2 separate regions of the Homo sapiens genome follow, and region 1 is linked to region 2. The links come from fine-mapping of genetic effects on gene expression. Tissue or cell type: sun-exposed skin. Region 2 holds a variant in brackets; the other region holds the start of a gene. All regions are shown on one strand. Distances are from middle to middle.

Region 1 (8,183 bases), 40 kb before region 2:
CACAACTGTAAAGGGAATTGAGAAGGATTCCCGTTCTTGGGACCGAATTGTTTTAGCCACCCCCCGCCTTCTCTTGTATTTCAGAGGTATGGAGTCTATCTACGCTCTAGACCCTGTCCTGGGAGTTTCTGTCTTTTAAGGAAAAGCCTTAGAGATGACTCATTTTAACAGTCTTCAGTTTAACAGCCACCATCTTGGCCTCTGCCTAGGGCAACTTGAAATAACTATCTGCAGATGAGGAGGACTAATGGAGTGGCCTTTTGATGCAAGATGGTGTCCTAGTAGATAGCTCTTTAATTAGGGTGACCTGCTTTAGAGCTGTCACCTAGGTATAATTATTAATAGCACCCATACTCACACTCAGAATTGTCCCATTTTGATAAGAAATGATATGGTCACCCAATTAAAATGGGGTTAATTCTTCCCTTCCTCTGGCAGGAACAGCACAGCAGGAGGAGTTTGATGTAGACTCAGGAGACAGTCTATTATCAGTTTTTTACTTATGCCTTTGCTGTCACTGTGTAAGAGGCAGAGGATTTTAGTTTTCTAACGTGGCATGGCTCAATATATCTGACTCCAGACCATTTGGGTTTGCTGGCTACTGGTAGAAGGGGAATCTTTTAATCACACTGTAATTTTTTCCTCTCTGCTACTACATAGGCCAGTTTCAACATTAGCATGGCTTTTTCTTTGGAACATTTATAAAAACTATAAGTAGACCAAACTCTCTAAAACCCTGACATTTGTCAATCAAGACCTCTCAAACTCCACCCTGGAAATGCTGGGGTCTGAGACCTCTCACTCAGTTTCCTGGCTACCATATCACAAGAATTTCCAGTTCTCTAGCCTGGCACAGAGGGATCTTTCCTACTTTCACCATTTCTCAACTCAGCCAATTTTACATTTAAGGATCTGCACTACAGCATCCCACTTCCAGCTATATAGAACTCTTTTGGCTGCAAGAGATAGAACTTAACCCAAAATAGCTTAAGCCCAGAAGGGAATGTTTTGGCTCATGTAACTAAAAAGTCTAAGGGTACCTTGGCTTCAGGCATGATCAAACAAGTCATAAAAATTTGCTTATGCATACATCCCTTCCCACACCCCTTTTCTCAGCTTTGTTTCCTTTAATAGCTTATCCCTCATACAACACTGAATTGGCTAATTGGCGGGTCTTGATCACTACCTGCCAATGAAGTGGAGGTGAAGATGGGCTCTGCCCTTCTCTAAACCACAAGACCTAAGGGTGGAAATGGGGTTTTTTCTCAAAGGTGCTGTTACCAAAAAAAGGGAAAGGGATGCTTGCTAGGTTAAGAAAAACAACAGAGGTCCATCCATTTTATACTTGAAAGCTTAAAAAAATGTAAGCAAATCTGTCCAGACTCAACTCTCTGAAAGATGAGGATGAGAATCATTATTTACTTTGCCTCAAAGTGGTGAAGAAGAAAAAGAAAAGGGCAAGGGTAAAATTTTTTTTAGTTTAAAGATGAAATGAAAATCCACAGGCTTGAAAGTTTGGACTTTCCTGAAGTTGTGGTGTGCCTTTCCAACCTATTGTCAACTTGGAAAAGACTTAATCTTCAACAGTGGAGGAAGCCTCCATTCTCTCCTTTCATTCACTTGTCTGTCACCTTCCCCTGAGGGCCTCAAGGGCAGGAGAGAGCATATGACAAGGAGGAAAGAAATGCCATTTCCTTCTGGTCTCAGACTCTGCGTATCTTAGCTGGGAATATGCAGTTTGGTCATTTCAATCTCAACATTTTCAACACTAAGTTGCAGGAATTAGTTAATTCAACAAGTATTTGTTGAATAAGAATCCCTTATCCTCTTTCGTTCCTCTTTGTTACCCTTTGTTTCTCTCCAAGACTTTTCTCATCAGCATTTAAACATCCTCAAGGCTCTCTCATCTTAAAAACCGAACAAATAAAACCCCTACAAACAGAAGAATGTCCTTTGATCCGACTTCCTTCTCAGCTACCACCCTGTTCAGAACCAAATTTCACATACTACATGTCTTCTTTACCGTCTGTATTTCCTCCCTCCCAAGCCTTCCTCTGGCCACTCCTGTCCACTCCTGCCACTCACTGGAACAGAAGGCTTATGGAAAGAGCCCCACTTTTACAGAACACGAACCCCAGTATAAGGCAGCATTATAGCCCTTAAACACTGTGAAGTAATTTTGTGACATCTGTCTTTTCAACTGGAGTGTGGGCTTCTTGGGGGTAAGACATAGCTGGTAGTTACTCAGTAAAATATCTTACTGTTGAATGTTACATGTCTACTCCAGACATGGAGACTAGCATGAATAAATGTTAAACAAAACTTTGTTGAAGTAACAAAATAACTGAGATTGGAAACAAAAGGATGGGACAGGTTTGGAATGGCGTGAAATAATGAGTGAAAGTTCAATTATTCTGAGCTCAAGTTAGAAGTGTAGGAGAAGGAGGAGAGTGTGTTGTATTAAAAGCAAGGCAAAAAATAGTTTCAATGGGCAATGTTATATGTTAAATGCTACAAGCAAGTATATCATGTTTTTCAGACTGAACACTATTAGAGGCTACTTGATTTGCAAAACAATAATCAATTCTTTGGGGTGGAGATGGGGAGATTAGTTTCACTGGAATGTTACCAGGTTGAGAATATGAAGGAGCAGTAATTTGTAGGGTCCAGAAAATGCAAGGATCACAGCACAATTAATTTAGGTGGACAGTCAACAGAGTGGGCATACAGCAGGACCTTTAGGGTGGGCATACAACAGGAACTTTTGGGAGGTGAACAGTCCTATCTGCATGCTTCTCATCAATTCTACATTTTAATCCAGGCCATCTTATCCGTGAGGTTAAGGATCTCTAGAGAAAGAGAACTCTAGCATAAACTTTACTTAAATGTAAGCTAAACCCTTCACCCAAATGTTTTAATCATATGGATTTAAAATGTGAAATGACAAGTGGAAGTGACACGTAATTATGACCTTATTTTTTGAAACAGAGTCTCAATCTGTCACCCAGGCTGGAGTGCAATCACGGTTCACTGCAGCCTCAAACTCCCAGTCTCAAACGACCCTTCCACTTAAACGACCGAGTAGCTGGGACTACAGGTACGCGCCACCACACCCGCTATTTATTTTATTTTACTTTTCGTAGAAACAGGGTCTCACTGTGTTGCCCAGGCTGGTCTTGAACTCCTGGGCTCAAGTGACCCTCCCACTTCGGCCTCCCAAAGTGCTGTGATTACAGGCATGAGCCACCAAGCCCAGAGACTTTTCTTTCTTTCTTTCTTTTTTTTTTTTGAGACGGAGTCTCACTTTGTTGCCCAGGCTGGAGTGCACTGACATGATCTCAGCTCACTGCAAGGTCTGCCTCCCAGGTTCATTCCAGTCTCCTGCCTCAGCCTCCCGAGTAGCTGGGACTACAGGTGCCCGCCACCACGCCCGGCTAATTTTTGGTGTTTTTTTTTTTAGTAGAGACGGGGTTTCACCGTATTAGCCAGGATGGTCTCCATCTCCTGACCTCGTAGTACGCCCGCCTCGGCCTCCCAAAGTGCTGGGATTACAGGCGTGAGCCACCGCGCCCGGCCTCCCAGAGACTTTTCTATCTGATTACTTTTCAAACACATTCTAGAGCATCCTAGAACTTGTCCTTTCCTAGTTCAGTTTATTACTTTCTGCTCATGCTCCAGGAGAGAATATAGCTTTTAGTCATTTAGTCTCTATGTGGTCCTTCCTTGATTTTCTAAGGGTCCTGAGTCTGTGGTCCCAGAAATAGACAAAAACATGTGCAGGGCATCATAGACTCTTGCTAGGCTGGAAGTAGAGTTCCTCTCTTGTAGCCAATGTCCTCTTCTCCTCACCCTTCCACTCCCGAAATACACACACTCAATATACAGTGGCCAGCACATCTGTTTTATGGGACCAAGAAGCTGAATCCTAAAGGTTAATGAAGGAAAGATACGCAGAAAGTCCAGCACTTTCCTAATTCAGCAGCACACAGGTTTTCACGTCTAATATTTAATTTACGTAATTTATTTTCAATCTCAATTTAATTGCTTTTCTTGAAAAGATGTTTGGGACAAGGTCAACAATGAGGGAGGAATGTCACCGGGTCGGGATCTGGAAACAATCAGCTCTGTATGGTTTTAAAGATGAAGCGCCAAGATCTTAAGGAACCTGAATTCCTGGTGAGCAATCAAGTTCTTTAATCGGCCCCCAGCAGGATGTCAACGGCGTAAAAGACAAAAAGAAAATCTATTTTAAAAGATAGATTTTGTGTTTTTAGATTAATTTTTAAAAAGCGAACCCACCACAAACTTCCCAGTTTTTAAAGAAAAGGCCTCTCCCACCGCAGAGCCCTCCCGAACCATGGGACAGCTCAGCGGCAGCGTCCCACCGGCTGCCCGCAACCGGTGCCGCGAGCTCGGAGTGCAGCGCTGGGATCTCGCGTGCTCCGGGACAGCGGGCTCCTTGAGCGCCGCGGGGCGGGGCGTGGGGCAAGACCCGCCGGCCGCTCCCTTCCCCACAGCGCTTAGAGAAGCAGCGAGCGCCTTTCCTCCTGTCCCGGAGTCCTAGCCTGGCCCGAGCTACCTCCAGGGCGCCCGCTGCTGCGGTGGCAGGAAGTCCCCGGGAACTACAAATCGAGGCATGCTGGGAACATTCTCCCGCTCCTCCCAGGAAATGTCCTTTGTCCAGCCCTACAGGAAGCCCCAGTGAGGAGTCAGCCGGGCAGCCAGCCAGCGAGCCAGCCAGCCAGCCAGCCAGCCAGCCAGCCAACCAGCCAGCCAGCGGGCCACCCAGCGGCCGCTGCAGCCGCCGCCGCCGCACAAGGGCAGACGCGCTGCGGTGCGGGGCTCGGGCCGGGGCGCTCGGTGCCCTAGCTCCTCGCCGCGCCAGCCGCCTCGCAGGTAGGAGCGTGGCTGTGGCTGGGCTCAACCGCCTCCCGGGGATGGGGCTGATCGGGACCAGACCCGACCGCTGCGGGGATGGGGTGTGTGTTCGAGTGCGGTGGCGGAACGGCTGGGCGAAGTTGTGCCTCGTAAAGTGGACCGTTGTCCGCTCCCCTGGGGCGCAGGGCCCCGGGCTTATGGGGTGCTCTCGCGCCCCCAAAGCCAGGACTGAGCTCCCTCAGGGGTATGTGGCGAGGGGCGGGGAGGAGGAGGCTGAGACTTGAGGGAGGAGACAGCGATGCAAGAGGGAATAGGACCGTCCCGCCGACCACCGAAGGGGGCATCAGAGACCCTCGGAGAAACCAAGCCCAGGGAGGAGCTTGGAAGGCAAGGAGAAGGTGAAGGGCTTTGTGTGCAGCTGTGGACCTTGACGGACTGCGCTCCCCTTGCCTTGTCTGTTCGTGCCTCCAGCCCCACTGGGGCTAAGGGAGGGTGGGGGGCTCCGAGAAGGGCAGGAGAGAGGCGGCAGGTCATCTTGGGTCCTAGTGAATGAAATGTGTGCCTCCCTTTTCCTCTCTTCTCCATTCTAGCCCACTCAAATGAGCGGCTTTGGGGCTGCCATCAGACCGGGCAAATGACACAATAAGGACGGGTGGGTGGAGAGATGGGCAGCAGCTCGCAGCCCAAGAGGGGTGGCCGTCTAGCCCCGGGAGGCATTCCAACCACACGTGTCCATGTAGGTAGGTGGTGGGGTGGTGGGCAAAGCTGGAACCTGCACCTCGCGGGGATGCCGAGGCTCAGGATTGTGCATGGAGGCACGGGTGAGGCGCGTGTTGGGAGGAGTGGGTGAGTAAAAGGTTGAGGGGGAGCAGCGACACAGAGGCGCTGAGTGTACCTTATGGCCAATGTACATTATGGCCATGCATCGGGAACTGACTACCACTTCCTCTGGGACTTTCCACGATTTTCCTTTTTCCTAACCGCCTCCCCCAACCGCCCCCGCCCTGCCTCCCCCACAGGAGTGAATCACCCACCCCTTACTACATGAACCCTGGGCTGAATTGAAGTTGGTGATGTATCCCTGTCCTTGTAGTGGGCATGTTTGTCCTTAACCTGTAGGATGACACCAATACTCCGCATCCCCTACTGCGTTACCCTCCTCCCTCAAGACTGAGCGTCTGGTAAATGCGGTTGGATAATGGCTAGCGAGTTAAATGTCTTTGAGTAGCTGTGGTGGATGAGTGGGCAACTTTGAATACAGTCCAAGTGTGACTGTTGTAACTGAACTCAGCATGCCTAAGGGGCCACACTCACTATCTCTCCTTTCTCCCCTCACCTGATTTTTTGTTGATGCCCCCAACTGTTTACCTTCTTCTCTCAACAAGCCAACATGTGGATATTATTTAATGTGGAATACGTTTGAGGAACCAAATGAACCTTTAAGAATGCCACTTATATGGCCAGGCAGGAGTATGCAAGGCTCATGGTCGAAAGAATGATGCTGTAGGACATGGAGAGAGCCCTGAGCCTGATATAAATGGCTTTCGAGGTGAAACAAAACATTTCTTCCTTAGCTTCTTTGGGAGAGATGAGGCATTTGAACTGAGATAAAGAATGGAATCGAGAAAAAAAACCGAGTTGTTTAGGATGAGGCCATGAGGATAATGAAGTGAAGGGAAGAGGCTCTGTGAATTTAGATGATTTCTAGTTAGAACATATTGGCCGTGTGTGTGTGTGTGTGTGTGTGTGTGTGTGTGTGTGTGTGTTGGAAGTGGGGGTTGTTGTTAAGGGAAAGTTGATGTCAAAAGTTCAGCCATGCCCAACAGAGAATAAGATGGCATCCTATTGAACAAGATCATAAATATGAAGTCAGGCTGCCCTTTACATTACACAAAGGAACACATAGATGGCTTTTCAGAACTACTGGGATAGAGGGGTAAATGGATGCTAGTCAGACAGAAGAACCGGCTGGATTGATGCGGCTGGATTGAAGTGGTAAATAGTGACCTCACATCAGCAGCATGACTAAGGCTCATGGAGTTGCATCACATTTCCTCTCCCTCCCCCACCAAAACTCTTTGAATTTCCTCAGAATCTACATTTTTTGCCTAATTACTAGTGTCCTGTGAAGGGAAGGAGAAAGGGTAAAGGTTGGTTGTAAGGATGATAAACTAAGGCAAGAAGGAGCTTGTCTGCTTATGTAGAAAGAAAAAAATAGCTACAGTGTCAGTAAGAGGTCTGGAGCTTGAACCTATGTCAGTACCATATGGGCTTTTCTTTGTATCTAAGATTCTACTTCTTTTTTCTTTTCTTTCACCTGCCCCTTAACAGGTTTCTCAGTACCACACACTATGTAGAGTTAATATAATCAACAAAAGTAACTCCTTACTTTGGGATTTAAAATTCTTCACAATTCAGTGCCTACCTACCCCTCTCCTTTACTGGACCTGTGCCACCCCAATTTACCTACCCATCCTTCGAGCAAATAGCTCCCCAGTCCTTGAAGATGCAACAGACATTCTTCTACCTCCGTGACTGTCCGGTTGAACCCCATGCTTGCTGGACATCCCTGTACCTGTCCCTAATTATTTTTGTACATATCCTGGCCCAGCTGATTAGCTCCCTTACAGAACTCTTCCCAAACTTTACAGTCAAAATTAATCTTACCCCTTGGTAATTTGTATTATTTCAATGACACCTGCTTTAGGTGTTAATATCTAACAAGTGCCCAAAGGATGTTTGATTTGAAAACATGAATAAATCAAAGAAGGAGTGAAAGGATAAAAAAAATCTTAATTATCTTGCCTTTTCTTTAGAAAATGGGATGGAGCCTTTCTCATAGACCTGTGATGATTCATTGCAATTGTGAAAATAAAGCACCTAGGACATGTCAGACTGAGGCTTTTCCTTTTGCTCCTGGGTTAAGAGACCCTAAAAGTACCTATCACAGTGTCTAGTACAAGGACATTCACAAAAAGTTTGTTGAATAAGTTATTTGCCAGCCTACATTTTAAACTCTCAGGCAGAATATGGAGTGGATTAATCCCAAGCAAATAATCAACAATTTTTGTCATTGTCCTAGACTGAAGAAGGTAACTGTTTCCATTCAATTATGAAGGTGCAAAGTGCTCATTGGAAAAGCAGCACTACGAAGACTGTCCTGCTATAGCCAGACATTTACCATGCCATTTTTATTTTTATAGCCCAAGCAATCTATGAGGATTAAAATGTAGCATATAGAAATAGAAAACAAATCAGACTTTCAAATTTTCCCCAAAGACACTACAATTTAGTAGTCCCTCACT
Region 2 (8,183 bases):
AAAGTGACCCCTTTCCCACCTGGGTCTTTGCAGACTCCATTGTCTCCACCTGGAATACTTTCCCTCACATTCCTGTCTGTTGAAATCCTACCCATCTTCTGATATTTAGCCCAAATGCAAGGACTCCATGAATCCCCTATGGGAATGGATCTCCCGGAAGCATTTTCCTTTCTTATGGCACTCTTCACATTTACTGTGCACTGCACCTAACACGTCTCCTATTTTATCTCCCGCACTGGACCACTAGACTGGGAGCAGAAGTGGAAAATCGGAGGCCTTAATCCTGGGGCCAGGCTGTGAGTGTGTTTTCTTAGTTTGCATATTTGTTCCCCACCAAATTTAATTTATTAAAAAATTATAACCTATGTTAAACATACAGGAAAGCTGAGAGTATGATATAATAATGTATATTTGGGACTTATCGCCAAGAATGAATAGATTTGCTGCTGACACCTCGCCACCCACTTTTTAAGATATAAATTATTGCACATACAGTTGGAACACTAGCCCACACATCCCTCTCCTGGAGCAGATCTTCACACTGCTTTTTCAAATTTAGAGTTAGTCACTAATATTTAGAAATCACGGGATTTCACATCATAATGGTCACTTTCCTGCCGGTTCTCACCAGTCCATCACAGGCTCTGGCCCATCCTGGCCCTTGGAACCTGCCTGTCTAGTCTGTGGCTTAGTCTGGCACCCGAGCTCTCTCATCTGCCCTCTGTACATGCTTTCCAGAAGGCGAGGGGCCTCCTCATGCCCCTCCATCCTCCTCTGCACCACTGCTCGGTCTGTGCCCACTGCCTGGACTGAGGAATTCAAGGCCTCATTCAAGCCCCACTGGCTCCTGTGGCTTTTCCCAGTGACTTCGGCTCAGCTCCATTCTCAGTACTCATATACACCTAGCCCTTAAGCCGGTGGTTGAGCATTTGCCTGTGCTTTTATTCAATCCTTTGTCAGGTACCCTGCAGAGCCACCCAGGTGGAGAAAAAGGACCCAAAAATCCCGGCCAGGTCAGGCTTCCTTGTTCTTCCCTCTTAGCCTTTGCTGCCCCCGTGTGGTGCACCACGTGAGGTGCAGCGGGGCTTGGTGCAGGAGCTTTACCTGCTTGGCACTCTCAGGTGTAAGAAGGGATGGCAAATTTTGTTGGCCACAACACTGCGAGGCGTTTGTGCTTGTTCAGTTGAGACTGTTGACTCATCCGGCCCCCTCGTCTCTTTCTTTGAACTCCCCTCGCTGCCCGTCGGAGATCTGTCATTTTCCTTCATTTCCCTGTGAAAATTGCCCTGGTGGTTTCCTAAGTGTAGGGTTTCACTAGGCTGAAAAACCAGGGGAAGGGCTCTTGTCCCTGATTCCACCACCCTCCGTTGATTCCCGTGGTACTTGGCATTAACATATGGATCGTGCGCACGCCTTACAAGAGCTGGAGAGATGCTGGCTCTTGCATTTTGTGCGGTGGCTGGGGAAGGAGGGGTGTTGCATTTTTCACCTTACCCCACTGCCTGGAGCCACTCGCCCCTGATGCTAGTGCTGATCATCTGTTCCTTGGGGTTTTGAAGGTGGTGGAAACCTGTTCATCTGGGCCAGAATGTGGTTCCCTTTTCTCTTCAGAATGAACACTGAAACTAACTCCATTGTGGTAATCAAATTCAACTGATTAATGATCTGTAAATTTCCTGTGTAAGAAAGAAGTCATTTTGATGTTGGATGTGACTCTCATCATGGCTGTGATACACAAAGGTCCAGAGGGAGACAGCTTCCATCTCCACACTCTGGACCCATAGCAACCTCCTCACCTGCTTCAGTTCAACTCTGTCCCTGACGCCCCTGACAGTGTTTCTTTTGAGTGTGTTTTCATTGATTGGTTAATGACTGTGTCATCACTGAAGTCCCCAAACTTGTCTTGATTGGCCTCCTCTCTTCAGGGAAATTGAGAAGAATGAGAGAACCAGTGATTAAAGAGGAGATGGAGGGAAGAAAGAGCCTAAGGATATGGAAGAATAAAGGAAGAAAGTATGTGATTTAAAGAAGAGGAGAAAGGAGAGAGAGAGGCAGTTAAATCTGGGGATGTGGGATAATAGACTTCTAATTTTGGGCTGAGTAGAAGGTATATTTTGGGAGAAGTTCACACTTGTTTTCTTTACTTGCCCAGGAACCCATGGTGTGGCTCATTGTGTGATTTGAAAGGGTGAAATGCAGGGTTATGTATGATCAGAATGGCCAACACACATATAGCCAGGAGTGTTCTAGAGACCTTCTAGGAAATTGGCACCGAAGCTGGTAGAGGCTGAATGCGTTTTTGTTTCTTTCAGCCCTGCTCGGGGCCATTAGGAAAGGCGTGCAATCTCTTTCAGATGCCCCTCAGGGATTCTCCTGGGTTCTAGAGAATCCCCTGCGTGCGACTGGGCAAGAAAGAGGTAACCCAAAAAAGCTGGGGCCCTCCAAAGTATCAGCACCCCATGCTCCAGTGTTCTGCTGTACCACTGACAAGACCAGTTCAGGCTGTGTGATTCCGTGGAAAGATAAGGACTTTCAAGGTCAACTGCCTTTTAGAAGGCCTAGCCATTAATCAGTTAGTGTGACTGTGAACAAGTTTCCTCACCGGTAAAATGGGAATAGTCACCCCTCGTGATAGGTTTCTGATGAGTATTCAGTGAGGGAATATATGTCATATGTAGGTCATGTTGTACACGCCTGAAACATAGTAGAGCTTATTCAGTCTTCATCGCCCTTCCTGACCCTCCCACTACTCTGCCCACCCCTCATCCCCAGCTCCATGCTACTCTCCTAGGTAAAAGATGGTGATACCTGGAAATGAAAAGGAACAAGGAAAGTATGTATTAACAGAAACCACGCCTCCCTCCAGGTTAGGCATTAAAACATTTATTGCTCTTTACATTGAACTGCGTGAAGAAATAGGAGATTTAAAAGAAAAGAAATGAAATCCTTTCTCATTTAAGAGGAGAAATGGAGCTCTAGTAGTTAAAAGCGACCCTCAAGTTAAAAGAGACCACAAGCCGGGCGCGGTGGCTCACGCCTGTAATCCCAGCACTTTGGGAGGCCGAGGCAGGCAGACCACGAGGTCAGGAGATTGATACCATCCTGGCTAACACGGTGAAACCCCGTCTCTACTAAAAATACAAAAAATTAGCTGGGCGTGGTGGCAGGTGCCTGTAGTCCCAGCTGCTCGGGGGGGCTGAGGCAGGAGAATGGTGTGAACCTGGGAGGCGGAGCTTGCAGTGAGCAGAGATTGCGCCACTGCACTCCAGCCTGGGGGACAGAGCCAGACTCTGTCTCAAAGGAAAAAAAAAAAAAGAGAGAGAGACCACAATTGTTCAGAATGAGCCACTGAGATTTGGAAAAAGCAAATCACATTGTATTTCCTCTGGTATATGATTAGGACAGAAAGCTCCTGGTTGAGCCAGGGAATGGGCAGGTTTTGATGACATGAGGAAGACAATAAGTTGGGCATTGTGTGAAAGGGAGACAACAGGACCTGGGCTTGTGCCATTGTCACCTTCTGTATGAAGCCAGGAGGATGGAGCTTGATGACATCACCTAACAATACCCACATGCACATCTCTGTCATCCTTAAATCGCTGAGTCTTGGACTTCACGGTCTCCTTGTGCCAGTCCACAAGGGAAACCCACTCCACGGTTCTAACAGACTCAGGTACATTCTTCTTGGCTTCCTCCCAGCTGTAAAGTGGCTTATATGCCAGATCTTGCTGAGCCTTCTTGTAAGAGAAGGTGAACACGCTATTTGACAATGTCACTCTGTGGTGGTTGAAGGGTGTCGATAGGTGTAAATTGGCCTCAGCAGGAAGCTCACTATTTCCAGCAGGAAGCCAATCCAGTACATCAGAGATAAAGGAAGGCTCCATCTAGAATCAAGGCAGAGGCCGAACTCTTTGCTCAGGATGTAATTAAGGTTATCATAGCTTTGGTGAGGCATGTCATCTGAGATGTAGTAGAACTGTCCTCGGACACTTGGGGCCTTCTTGGGCTCCCGCAGGGCCTCAAGGCCAGAATGTGGGCCCAGGCCATGTTTCCAATATAGACTGGGTTGACTCTGGAGAACTTGCTGAAACTTGACAGGATCCCATGGTTGTTTAGGGCCTCATTTATACCGGCAGAAAGGATTGGGCTTCCTTCCCCATAGATAAACATTGGTCTTAAGGCACAAGTGTACAAGGTGCCACCGTTTTTCAGAGTCCACCCATTAGCCGCCAGCACAGCCTTCTCAGCAAGCTTTTTGCTGTGTGGGTATGGAGCGTACCATGTGTTTTCCAGAGGCTCTTCTTCGTGACTGTTCTGGATGATTTCCTTGTAGGAATTGGGCCCGGCTACCTCTGGGGTACTGGTGTAGATGAAGACTGGCACTGTAGCTTGGACACAGGCCTCCAACAGAAGCTGGGTACCTACCAACGAAAAGCATTCTGTCAGTGTCAGGAAATATCCCTAAGGGGCCCCAACCACGTGCACATATCTCCACTCCCAAGTGCAGTGGTTATAACAGACTC[A/G]GGTACATTCTTTTGTGGCTCTGACTGAGACTGGGCCATGCTACAGCCATAGGAAAAACACCAAAATGAAAAGAAACTGACATATGGATTCTGGAGAGCAAGAATTTCTAGACTTTTGGGTGTTTGGATGTGTGTGTGTGTTTTTGTGTGTGTGTGTGTGTGTGTAGTTTAATTTTGGCAAAGGACCTAGGGTTATCACTTTATATTTTGCCAAGTAAGGATGTTGAAAATTATAATGTGACATCAATACCATTAAAGGCAGATTATTGAAAAACTAAAAAATCAGGAAGATATACTCTGAGAATATGGACAGTCCTGGTTCTTTGGCAAAAAAGGGCAGTAGAAGAATTTACATCACACACACAGACACCCATATACAGTTGTATATAAGCAATATACACTCTTAAATATACTGTTGAATATACATGCAATTGCTGGTATTTTTCTCATTTTGAGTGGACTGGTAAAACTTTGTCACCAGGACCATTCCTGGAGTCATTGAGCGAACAGTGGCTTGTGGGGAGATGCTGGAAACCCACACTCTTTTCCTGATTGTGCATTCCCTGGGAAAGCTGCTTCCAATTCTGGCTGTGACTCTGTTTACCTGGTTATGTAAAGTCGGGGTGATAAACCTTCCTTTAAACCCTGCCCTGGCGTTTCCTGTGGAGCCTGGTGGAGGACTGGGGAGAGGAGTGTGCCCTCTGCTGGTAACACCTGTACTGGGAGGACCTTGCCGCCTCCCCTGAGCTGTGTGGAAGTGTAGCTCATGGAGGTGTTCGGAGTGCCTTCCCTTGAAGAAGGAAGGAATTTCCTAGGCAAAGGATTATTATTTTTTCTTATTTTTTTTTATTCTTGGCCCTGTTTAAAGTCTCTGTGGAATTTGAGTTTCTGGAGAGACAGCCTCATGTTTTCAACAATTAATCTGGTGGCAGAGAAAATGCGGAAGTAGTTTACCTTCAAGGGGGAAATGACCAACATTGTGAAATATTTTCTAAGTCTTGGAGTGATAATGGTTTAGGAAACAGATGCCTCTAACACTTCCCCTGTCATTTTACCTTTCTTGTTGTTGGGAGCTGTGGAGAGTTAATAATTCAAATGAAACACTGGTTACTCTTAACACCCTCCTCACACTGTAGAGGTACTTAAAGGTATGCGTAAGTAGAAACTGGAAAGGTTTTTTTTTTTTGAGATGGTGCTGGAGACCCAAAAGCAATTAGTTGCTTTAGAAAAGGTGTCAGAGTAGACTGAATGTGGAGGGCTAGGCCAGTGGTGGGGTGCTGTGGTGCTGAAGAGACTGGGCTCTGGGAATCAGAGGGTGAGACTGCATGACGAGATTCCTTAAGGGAATGTGTCTGAATTTAAAGTAGTTTGGAAAGCTGCAATTCGGAAAGACCACCAAGACTTTAAGGGATGAGGATTGAATGAAGGTGCATGTTGGACACCTGGCTGGGAATGGCTCTGTAATAGCAGGCCCTGTGGCGAGCTGAAGAGACTGTGTATTCTGGACACTGGGAAACCCTTTTTCTTAAGAAAATATTGTGAGAAAGCATGTGCTGGATAATTCAGTCCTGACAGACCTCTGTGGACCAACTTTACTAATTCTCTCGAGAGAACTTCTTTGAGGTGGGCAGGAGGGCTCTGAATGTTCTTGATATGGGAGTGCTGGGAAGGGAAGAGCATGGTCCCTTTAAATGATATGGGAGGGGGGAAGGGAAGTGCTGGGTGAAGGAGGGTGTGGTCCCTGGCTATGGCTCTACTCCCAGGGACCTAGATGAGGACAAACATTTTCTGCCCAAATGTTGCATTTCCCAAGACCACCCTGGCCTGCCATGCCCCAATTCTCTGCCTATAAAACCCCCAAGACCCTAGCAGGACACACACAAACTGCCTGACAATGAGAGGAGCAGATTGGCAGAAGAAGATAGAAGGGGCTGGATGTCAGGAGGGGCACATCAGTGGAGGCACACATCAGCAGAGGAACACATGGGCAGCTGGACGTTGGGAGGAACACACCGCCCAGCAGAATGATGTGGAGTTTCCCTGGGATGGTCGGAGAAGAGTTGGGCAGTTGAACGGCCAACTCCATGGGAAAACCCTCCCCTTCTGGCATCCCCCAGCTGCTGAGAGCTACCTTCACTCAACAAAACCTGGCACTCATTCTCCAAGCCCAGGTGTGATCTAATTTCTCTGGTAACCAAAACAAGAACCCAGGATACAGAAAGCCCTCTGACCTTCCGACAAGGTAGAGGGTCTAATTTAGCTGGTTAAAACAAGCCGCCTGTAGATGTCAAAACTAAAAGAGCAAGACTAAAAGAGCACCATGTAACACACACCCACTGAGGCTTCAGGAGCTGTAAACATTCACCCCAGACACTGCTATGGTGTCGGAGTCCCACAGCCTGCCTGTCTCTATGCTCCCACAGAGGTTTGAGCAGTGAGGCATTGAAGAAGCAAGCCACACCCTCATTGCATGCCTGGTGAGGGGGATGAGGGAATTTTTCCCATTTCATTATCATAAGCCTACGCACAAGGTGACTTGTGTGTAGCACAATGATGACTATGGTGGCACCTGGAAGGTTTGATTCTGTCCCATAGAGGGATATCAAGAGTCTGAAGTTGGAATTTAGTTGACTTTTGATTGAAGCCACTATAGAAAGAGTGTCCACAGCCTTTGGAGTCACACAGGGGTGAGTTTAAAGTCTAACTCTCCTATTTACTTACTTACCTGGGGGGGCCTTGGACAAGTTACTTGCCATCTGTAGCACTGGTTTCCTCATGTAAAAAACTGAAGATAGCAGCTTTGAACTCCCCCAGTTGGTAGTGATCAGCAAAGACACTTGGTCCAGAGCATAGCAGGTGTTCAGTGGAGAGACTTCTTTTCCCTTCCTGTCCTTCTTTGTGATCCTTAATTCCCCACCTTGCTTCATCTCCTCCCCAGGCTACTGTACGTTTCACATTGATGTTCATGATGGACTCTCTGTGAGTGACACCGATGATGTCTATGATGGAGGTGGTGTGGATGATGACCGACATGTCCTGGCAGGCTCTCTTCAGGCATGACTCATCCAGAATGTCTCCTTCCAGCACCGTCAGCTTGGTCTTGTTCTGGAGCTCTGTGTGAACACCGGTCAGGTTATCAGAACGATTTCTGAAACGATTTCTGAAACTGATAAAGATGTTGTTACATAGATGTTCGAGGATGGCTAGAGTCAGGGTGTTGGAGTGGAGGGTGTACATTCCATGGAAGGAACAAGTAAACAGGGACACAGAAGTCAGAATATGTAGCAATTTATTGGGAAAGAGCAAACATCTGTTTCTACCCCATCTCATTTAAGAAAAGTAATCTGAGCAATGAGCTGTCAGGTGTGCTTGGAATATAAGCATTTCTAGAGTCATGGGAGACTCACTAAAATATTTAAAGAGAGTAAGGTGACTGTGGAGAGTTGGGTATAAGAGGGAAAATTTGAATTTAATTCTGCTGGTGATGCGGGATCATGATTTTGGGTCTCCAGCACCATGTCAAAGAAAATCCCTTATTTATATTTGGAATAAGTAGAGAAACAGGCAGAGCATGGTGGCTGACACCTGTAATTCCAGCACTTTGGGAGGCTGAGGTGGGCAGATTGCTTGCACCCAGGAGGTCAAGACCAGCCTGGACAG

Alleles and levels. Positions count from the first base shown, and alleles are read on the strand shown. Sizes are in standard deviations (SD) of each study's normalised expression.
For the expression in sun-exposed skin of the gene that starts at base 4,701 in region 1, allele A in region 2 goes with a higher level than allele G (small effect, 0.20 SD a copy in GTEx).

What was found. PIP is the estimated chance that this variant, and not a neighbour inherited with it, causes the effect.
Region 1: it holds the start of ZNF697, and the variant in region 2 is fine-mapped to the expression of ZNF697 in sun-exposed skin (GTEx, PIP 0.98).

What each region holds. Positions count from the first base shown.
Region 1 is chr1:119,644,784-119,652,966 of GRCh38, reverse strand. ZNF697 (zinc finger protein 697) reads left to right here and starts at 4,701. Exons shown (of 3, transcript NM_001080470.2): 1 at 4,701-5,276. It overlaps LOC124904389 (a long non-coding RNA gene), which reads right to left and starts at 4,651. Exons shown (of 2, transcript XR_007066506.1): 1 at 4,580-4,651; 2 at 3,991-4,243. RefSeq lists enhancers at 4,624-4,693, 3,865-4,705 and silencers at 4,764-4,823, 5,121-5,284.
Region 2 is chr1:119,604,667-119,612,849 of GRCh38, reverse strand. It overlaps the pseudogene HSD3BP5. Among named protein-coding and RNA genes, the nearest start is that of LINC00622, 9.5 kb to the right of the region's middle. RefSeq lists an enhancer at 6,938-8,137. The variant A/G (reference allele first, on the strand shown) is at 4,524.